2 separate regions of the Homo sapiens genome follow, and region 1 is reported to be linked to region 2. The links are microRNA targets in miRTarBase. Many come from high-throughput screens and were not tested one by one. Region 2 holds a microRNA gene; the other region holds the end of a gene's coding sequence.
The links. The annotated mature microRNA hsa-miR-193b-3p reads AACUGGCCCUCAAAGUCCCGCU and lies in region 2 at 1,727-1,748, shown strand. An mRNA with a match to its seed (bases 2 to 7 or 8) in the 3' UTR can be bound and repressed. Matches are read on the target gene's strand: a 7mer-m8 pairs with bases 2 to 8, a 7mer-A1 pairs with bases 2 to 7 and ends in A, and an 8mer does both.

Region 1: miRTarBase lists SF3B2 as a target of hsa-miR-193b-3p. The part of its 3' UTR that is shown has no 7-base or 8-base seed match.

The regions. Positions count from the first base shown.
Region 1 is chr11:66,068,374-66,072,373 of GRCh38, reverse strand. It overlaps SF3B2 (splicing factor 3b subunit 2), which reads right to left. Exons shown (of 22, transcript NM_006842.3): 22 at 3,066-3,700. The coding sequence ends at 3,629. It overlaps PACS1 (phosphofurin acidic cluster sorting protein 1), which reads right to left and starts at 2,102. Exons shown (of 24, transcript NM_018026.4): 1 at 1,532-2,102. The coding sequence starts at 1,887. RefSeq lists silencers at 1,158-1,362, 1,423-1,572, 1,583-1,712, 1,863-1,912, 1,923-2,542 and 1 more.
Region 2 is chr16:14,302,291-14,306,440 of GRCh38, forward strand. It overlaps MIR193B (microRNA 193b), which reads left to right and starts at 1,677; the gene lies at 1,677-1,759. All of the region lies in intron 1 of MIR193BHG (MIR193b-365a host gene), which reads left to right. RefSeq lists silencers at 1-224, 509-669, 575-814, 1,768-1,817.

The DNA of each region.
Region 1 (4,000 bases), not on the chromosome of region 2:
CAAGAGCACTAGGAGTCCTGGGGGGAAATGTGTGCATTACTGTGGGTGTTAAACAGGAAACAACCTACATATTCAAGAGAATTACGGTATATTCATTCACACAACAGAATACTACCCATCATGAAAATATTTAAACTATGGCTACCATACCACATGGATGATTCTCACAAACCTAATGCTGATTTAAAAAAAAATAAAAAAACCAATCAAGTCACAGAACACATACAGGATGACACCATGTACACAAACTTCAAGAACATTCAGAACTATAAAATATATAGAGATGCATTATGTAGTAAAACTAATTTTTTTCTAACAAGGGAAATGATAAACACAATTCAAAATAGTGTTTACCTTTGTAGAAGGAAGAGGGGAGACAGTCAGGAAGGGGCACCCTGAGAGCTTCAACAGAAGCGATAATGCTCTGTTCCTTAAGCTGAGCGAAACAGAAAGATGTACTCTCATCATTCCTATCTGGGATATATATATAAAACAATATTATCCAGAATAAAGGTGGGGAAAGGAAGACAGTCGAGGGGGGAGCCCAGCAATCCTCTCTAACTCTGACTTACACATCCGTCTGCCTAACCAACAGTGAGGAGACAGCCCAAGACTTCAAGGCAACAGAATCAACTCAGCTACAAGGTGACAAAAAAGAACACCTCCAGGCACTTCTCTGGGCTTTCTGGGTGAAACCAGCTCCACACACCGTCTTATTCAAGTGGCAAACTGTAAGACACAGCACCCTGTCCCCAGAGTTGGAGACAGACTGCCTTGCCAATACAAAAACAGAAAATATTCCCAAACTCAGGCCTATTTTGCCAATGGAAGGAAAGTCCCCAGATGGTTCCAACAGACAGAGAGCAATGGATTGAATTTAGGAACAAGGCAGTAATTTCATACAGCCCTGCAGAGCTGGGAGATTCTGGGACCAGTTTTAGTGGGGGAGGGGAGGTAAAAATACACTTGAGGACACATTAAATAGGGCCCCAAAACTAAGAGCCTAGCGCTTGGGACAGAACGTGTGTAATATGAAGTTCAAATGAACATGTGTGCCGAAGGCTAATGAGAAGCCCCTAGGGTGATTATATGAGCTTTACCTGCAAGAGGTGACAATCGAGTTTGGCACATGCTGAGTCTATTGGGAAATAATAATATCAAGAGATCTATACCACATCCATGTATGTACAGCTCCCGGCGCCGGCGAGGCAGGAGAGTGACTTACTCAGGGAAACTGACTGCCAGGAAGGCCGGATTCGGTCAGCCCAATCGGAGAAAGCCCGGGGCCGAGGCCAGAAGGTCCCTCGGGGAGGACAGAAGGGTGGTCCCGGCCCCAGGCAGAAGGTGGGGCTGCCAGGAGAGGGCGGGTCCCCGTGGCAGGAGTCCCGGGAGGCCTGGCTGGAGCCAGGCCGGGCCGCGGGACAGTCGGGGAGATGGAGGGCGGGGACCCCATGGGCGCTGGGGCGGGGAGGGCTGGGCCCCGGCGGCCACCCCGCTCCCCCGGCGCCCCGCCGCACCCTCCCGCGCTCACCTAGGCACGCAGCTGGACGAGCTCCGGTCCACCTCCCAGGTGGCGTACAGGTTCATCTGCACCGGGGCGGGGGTGCGGCCTGGCCCCGGGCCACCGGGAGGCGCGGAGCCCGAGGCCACCGCCACGGCCATGGAGGTGGAGGTAGACGAGGACGAGGAGGAGGCAGCCGCCGCCGAGGTGGACGAGGACGACGAGGTGGCCTGGGCCAGCTTGGGGGGCGTCGGCTGCTGCGGCGGCTGCTGCTGCTGCTGCTGCGGCGGCGGCTGCTGAGGGGACTGGGCGACCCCGGATCCCCGCTGGCCGCTGCCGCCCCCGGCGCCTCCGGGACCACCGCCCGCCCCTCCGCGTTCCGCCATGGCCCGGCTAGGCGGGGGTTACGGAGGCCGAGGCGACGCCGATCTGGCTCCCAGGCTTCCCCCGCGGCGGCGGCGGCGGGGGCGCGGCAGCCTCCTCAGCCCGCCTGCCCGAGCGCGAGCAGCCAGCGAGCTGCACGCACGCGCGGGGCCTCTGGGCGCGCGGGCCTCGCGCTCGACCGCCGCTGCCTGTTGCGGCTCGCGAGGCCGACACGGGTGGGCGTGTCCGGGAGGGGGCGGGGAGCCCGGCCCGCGCGGCCCCACCCAGCGCGGAGGGGCCGGGCCGGGCGCGCTCGCGCCCTGCGTGCAGCCACGCGCGCCCCTCGCTCCCGCGGAGTAGAAGGGGTGGTCTGTGGCCAGCGCGCGCCCACGGGTCCTGCCCTCAAATCCGCTGCCAGTCTGCCCCCGCTCCTCCCCTCCCCGCCCACGGCCGGCCGCGGCCCCGCCAGCGGAAACCCGGCTTTTCCGGGATTCGGTCCCTGCAGGGAGGGGGCCGCCGCGGGAGCGCGCCTCGGCCCCTCGGGTCTTCGGAGCCAATGCGGAACCCGCCCCCAGCGGTGGGGGTCTGCCCGGGGAAGCCGGCTCTCCGCCTGCCGACCTAGCCCTGCCCTGCGGCCCCGGCAAACAGAGAGGTCGGCGGAGACCCGGGGCCCGCTGCCACCGCGGGTGCCTGTGATCCGGGAAGTTCCCGCCCCGAGGGCAAGCGGGGGCTCAGGGACCTGGAGTCCAGAAGGTTCTTCGCATAAGTGAATTCTCAAGCTACCCCGGGGCCCATCTGGAGCCAACCTTCCTCTTCTTTCCCTACCCCCCAAATGCCTCTTTAGAGTGCCAGTGCTTTGTTGCTTACCAAATTTCTAAAATTCCATTCCTCCTAAGGCCTAGCTCAGCTGCCACGTCCTATCTGGATCATGCCCCCCACAACCCCGAGACCATCTTGAACCCTCCGGCAAGTGAGCGCCTCCACTGGTGCACTTAAACACCAACAGTAGTACAACAGCAGCGCATGACTACCCTCCCCACAGGCTGGCAAATGCCCATGGGAGCCAGTGATCCAGCCTGCTCTAGTCTGTCAGAAAGGCTGCTCAGGACCAGATTACAACCTGGAGAAAGTAAGTCCCCCCATCCCACATACAAATCCCAAACCCCAGCGACTAGTGTTGCTTGAACCCAAGGGTTCATATGGACTCAAGACAATTTAGCTTTTGAGCTATGTTGTCGCACAGGTAAGGACTTGAACTTCTGGTCACAAGGTCAGTTGGGAAGGCCTGCCCTGGCCTACTTCCCAAGCCCACTGTTACTTCCTCTGCCGCGCTAGGGCGCTAATCTGGCTATTTTTACTCCCCAAGGACAAAGTAGTAAGGTCAAACCAGACCTAGAGGTACTTCCCCCAAGCCTTCCTACAAAGCAGGGCAGTGGTGAAACACAGATTTCAGCCTGGGGTTGGCGTCACCACCAGTCAAATGCGCCGTCTAATCCCAGTTTATGTTCGTGGTTACTGGGGCAGCCCAGTGATTGTAGAAAGAGACTATTTTAGTCCTTTTGCAAGAAGGGGCTAAAAGGAGATGAGGGAGGCTCAGGAGTGTTAAATATTCATCTCTTTCCTTGGGAAACAGCTTTATTTACAAAACAGGTCTAAAATAAGAACATGAAATGACAAGTCCTTGGGAACTGCGGGAGAGGTGGTTCTTGTGTGAAGCCCAGGCATCCAGACGTAGGGCCAAAAAAAGGGCTAGTGTGAGGGGACCTAAAACTTGAACTCCTTATATTTCTTGCTGCCCCCACGGCTGTCCTGGGGCTGAGCTTTCCGTTTTTTTTGCTGTATAGGGAGAAAGAGACACAGGTTAAGACAGGTTGAACCACCCCCGGACCCCCAAAACAAGGGTGGGCAGCCTGACATAGACATAGAAGTCTGTGGGAAAGGCGCTGAATCTGAATTCTCTTCGAGCTCCCTCTCAGACTTGGCTGAGTTCCTCCCCCTCATCGTCCTTAAAGAGGGCAGCCCACTGGAGGATTTCTAAGACTTCCAAATCTAAGGAAGCACAGAGCAGCAAGCAGAGGCCACCCTCACTCTCACCACTAGAGGGCACCATGCCACTGAAAACGGCAGGCCAGGGTC
Region 2 (4,150 bases):
CGCTCTCTGCAGAAAAGGATTTTCTACGCTCCCCGCCCATCACTTGGATCTCGTCTGGGGAGGGGCGGATTTTTTTTCTGGAAGTACCCTTCTTCTCCACGGTGGAGGATTTAAGGCTGGGCTCCAATCGAGGCGGAGGCTGCAGGGCCCGCGGGGCGCCCCCCGCCCGGCGCACGCCTGCCCGGAGCCCGGGAAGGCGCAGCCCTGGGTGGGGGGGCCCGTGCACCCCCGGAGGCGGCAGCGGCGGTGAGTGCTCCCCTTCTTCCCGCCTGGCACCTTCCGCCAGCCAAGGCAGGGATCGCGGCAGGTGGGTGCCCAAGCCCCCAGGGCCGAAGGGGTGTGGGGCGGCTGTCTGCGGGGTGGATGGGAACGGGAGAGGGGAGGTGGCGGCGGGGGAGCGCGCGGTTCTCTCGGGACTCGGCGCGAGACGCTTGTCTGGGCTGCGATTGCCGCCGCTGCCGCCACCCCGGCTCCCCCTCGGACCCCTCCCCCGCTCCCCAGAGGGGCGTGTGAAGCCGGGAGGTAGGAAGGGGGCGAGGCCGCCCCCAGCCTCCCTAGTGCCTGGGCTTGGAAATTGACGAGGCGGTGGAGCGTCCGCGTCCCCGCCCCCACCCCGGAAAGCCCGCTCGGGAAACTGACTCGCTGCGTGACCCCGATCTCAATGCCGCGCGCGGAGCAGGCCGGCCGCGCCCGCCGCTCCACGTGCGCCCGAGCCCCGCTGGCATGGGCGGCGGCGCCTGCGGGGGCCGGGCCCCGGGGATCCCGGACTAGCCGGGAACCACCGTCCCCAGAGAGTTACCGCCGCCCCCTAAAGTTGTCAGCTCCCTCCCCCCGAGAAGCAGGCAGCCCTGGCGCGTTGGCTTTAGCTTCTGCAGGACGGGGGCAAAAAAACTAGGTTCCGGGGTGCGGAGCGGGGTGTCTGTGCCCGAGACAACACCAAGTTAGGAAAAAGAAGTTAGAAAAAAAAAGAAAAAGGCATTTTGATTTGGGGGTGGGGGGAGTGGCGTTTCTGGTTTCTCTTTGCTTCCAATCCCCACCAAGCGGAGCGTTGGAATGCGCCGCTTATGTCCTCTGAGGACACATCCATATTTATAATTTATTTTTAGGAGAAGTTGTGAAAAAGGGAGGGGGGTTAAAATGAGGAGAAAAGGTGCGTGGGGGAGTGGCCTTTCCAGAACCTAGAGGCTAATTAAGCTATTAAAATGGAAATCATTTCCCCCAACTTGGGCGCGCAGCAAATTTGACTTTAATGAGAGACGATTAAGGACACAAATAACCAAACTTTATTTAGCTGGAGATGGGGTGGGGGGAACTGTACGAGGCACCTCGGACACCCGATTTATCCGCTGCTAAGGGACGTTTGGGGCACCCCTCGTGTTGTCCGGGAAGCTTTTAGGCCTGTTTGCTGGGCGAGATTGGTGATTGCTCCGGGAGGGAAGAGACACCCCGGGATCAAGCGATCCTCTTGCCCTCAGCCATGGTGTGGCAAATGTCCCCTCCTCCCACAGCGACCCCCTGGCATTTTGGTGAGATGAACCGCCGCCCTGAGGGAACACCCAGTAACGATTCCTTCAGTGATCCCGGTTCTCCAAACTCTTGCCTCAAAGGCGGCCTGCCCCGGTGCTGTCAGCCGTGAATGGGGACTCACTTCTTGGGAAAAGAGGCTTTTGGAGGCTGTGGTCTCAGAATCGGGGTTTTGAGGGCGAGATGAGTTTATGTTTTATCCAACTGGCCCTCAAAGTCCCGCTTTTGGGGTCATTCTGGACAGCGAGGGACTCAGGCCCCGGCAGTCTCGGGAGGGTGAGGGCAGAGAGCTACCACCCCCAGGGAGCGCGTCCAAAACCCGGCTGGCGGGGGGGCGGGGAAAGAGGGGGAGGTTTGCTACTTTCCATAAAACTAAAAGGTCCCTTCGAGGGCGGTATTCTTATAAGTGTGTGTTCTCAGTTTGCCGAACCTACTGTGTTTTCCAAGGGCTTCTCTCCTTGGGAGGCCGAAAAACGATACAAGGAGGAGAAAGTACATTCCCCCTGACCACCCCCACAGTGGTTTAAGGGACAGTATTGGATTGGAAAGGAATTAGTAGGATGTCAATTGTGGCAAAGTGTTTGAAGCCCCCAAATAAGGCGCTCCTGAAATGATGAATTGTAACGACATTAGATTTGTCTTTACGTTTGCTAAATTAGGAGAAACCAGCTGTTTGCTTCCACCTGGAATTGCAACATTTCTTTGCAACTCTTTGCTGTTGAAGGCGTTCTTTTTGTTCTGTTTTGTTTTGTTTGTTTGTTTGTTTGTTTTTTGGGGACAGAATCTCGCTCTGTCCAGGCTCTGACCAGGCTGGAGTGCAGTGGCGCGATCTTGGCTCACTGCAACCTCTGCTTCCCGGGTTCAGGCGATTCTCCTGCCTCAGCCTCCCGAGTAGCTGGGATTACAGGCGCCCGCCACCACGCCCGGCTAATTTTTTTGTATTTTTAGTAGAGACGGGGTTTCACCGTGTTAGCCAGGATGGTCTCGATCTCCTGACCTCGTGATCCGCCCACCTCAGCCTCCCAAAGTGCTGGGATTACAGGCATGAGCCACTGCACCCAGCCAGGCGTTTTATAGAAGGCTGGATAATACGTTCAGGGGAAGTCTCTAAAGCAAGGGTAGTGTGTATAAATCCCCGTCGCAGAACATTAACCTTCAGTTGTGTGTACACACACACACACACACACCCTATATAGTTGTAACCTATATAGACTTTCACACATCCTAAGTTATTTGCAAGTCTAGATTTAAATTAAGTCTACATAGCAGGGAATAGAAAAGTGAGCTGTACCTGGAAAAAACCTTTGAACACAGCGTTCTTGATACAAGATTTAGGATTTGAAAGACATGGCACATGTACACACAGATGACATTTGTGCTGCCTTGGCAAAAACAGTTCTTTACTTCCAGAGTTCTTTCTCTTTAGTATGGGACACGATGAAACAGCACAATTTTCAGGAGTCCACAATTCCAGCGAGGCGCGTGGATGGGAAATTGTCACGTTGTGAATTGTGTTTGTGCTTTGCTAAATCGCCACCCGGAGCTGACTGTCAAATCCTATTTGCTTTGCTAAATAAGGATATCTCATCAAATTAGCCTTTAATGATACTTCTACAAATAGGGTGTTTTACATGAATTAACGAGGCCGGAACACTGACTGTTTCTCCAAGATACTGAGCTATAATGGAGGCGACGAAGCCGAATGTTAAAATTACTGAATTGTTAAGTGTGCAAAATCAGACAGAATTTAGTGCTAAATGTGAAACAATTTCTGCTTTAATGGTGAGCATTCGCAACAGCACAAGCATTACTTATATTCAGCCGTCTGAAACTGTGCATGTAATTATGAATACATTTAACAAACTTTAACCCCCCTCTGAGTCTGGAAACAGTCTAGTATGGTGAAGAGATTATAAATCAGCATTTTGCAGTGAGAAGTCATCATTAATTCAGCAAAGAATCACAGCTTCTTTTCAGATCCTTCCCACCACCCTCCTACACACCCCCCTCAACCAATAAGGAAAAAAAAAATTCAGCATGGAACTGCTGGATACACTGAATATATTTTGGCTTTTCTCTTTTTGCCTCTGTGTGAGAAACTTCATTAAGCAGTTGCTGTTCCCTCCCCACCCCCGCTAACCCCCAAAGAAGTGTGGATTTAAGAAAAAAAAAAACAAAAAACAAGCAACTTTGAATTTTGTTCTTAGCAATCCCCAAGCCATAGCTGATCTCAGAGAGGCAAAAAAGATGTTTCAATAGAAAAGAATACGGTATGGCCAGGAGTAAAATATTTAGAGGTGGTTCTGCAATGAATATGATACTTCCTTAAAAATAAAATATATGTTGGTGATTCAAACCAATGAAAGTTGGAAAAGTCCCTCCAAGGGAACACTCTCTCTGTTTCCCTTCCCAGCAACCCCCCAACTTAACGTTATGAACAGAAAGATGGAAATTCTTGCCAGATCAACTATAGCCTCCTAACGATCAGCTCACCCTCCTTTAATTTTGATTGTGGAGCAAATACAGCTATTTTAGCCATGAGGATAAAAATGAGTGCAGTGAAAAGTTAAGGCAAACTTGGTACTTAAAATCACTCACCAGAATAAAGTGCGTGTACAAACAAAAC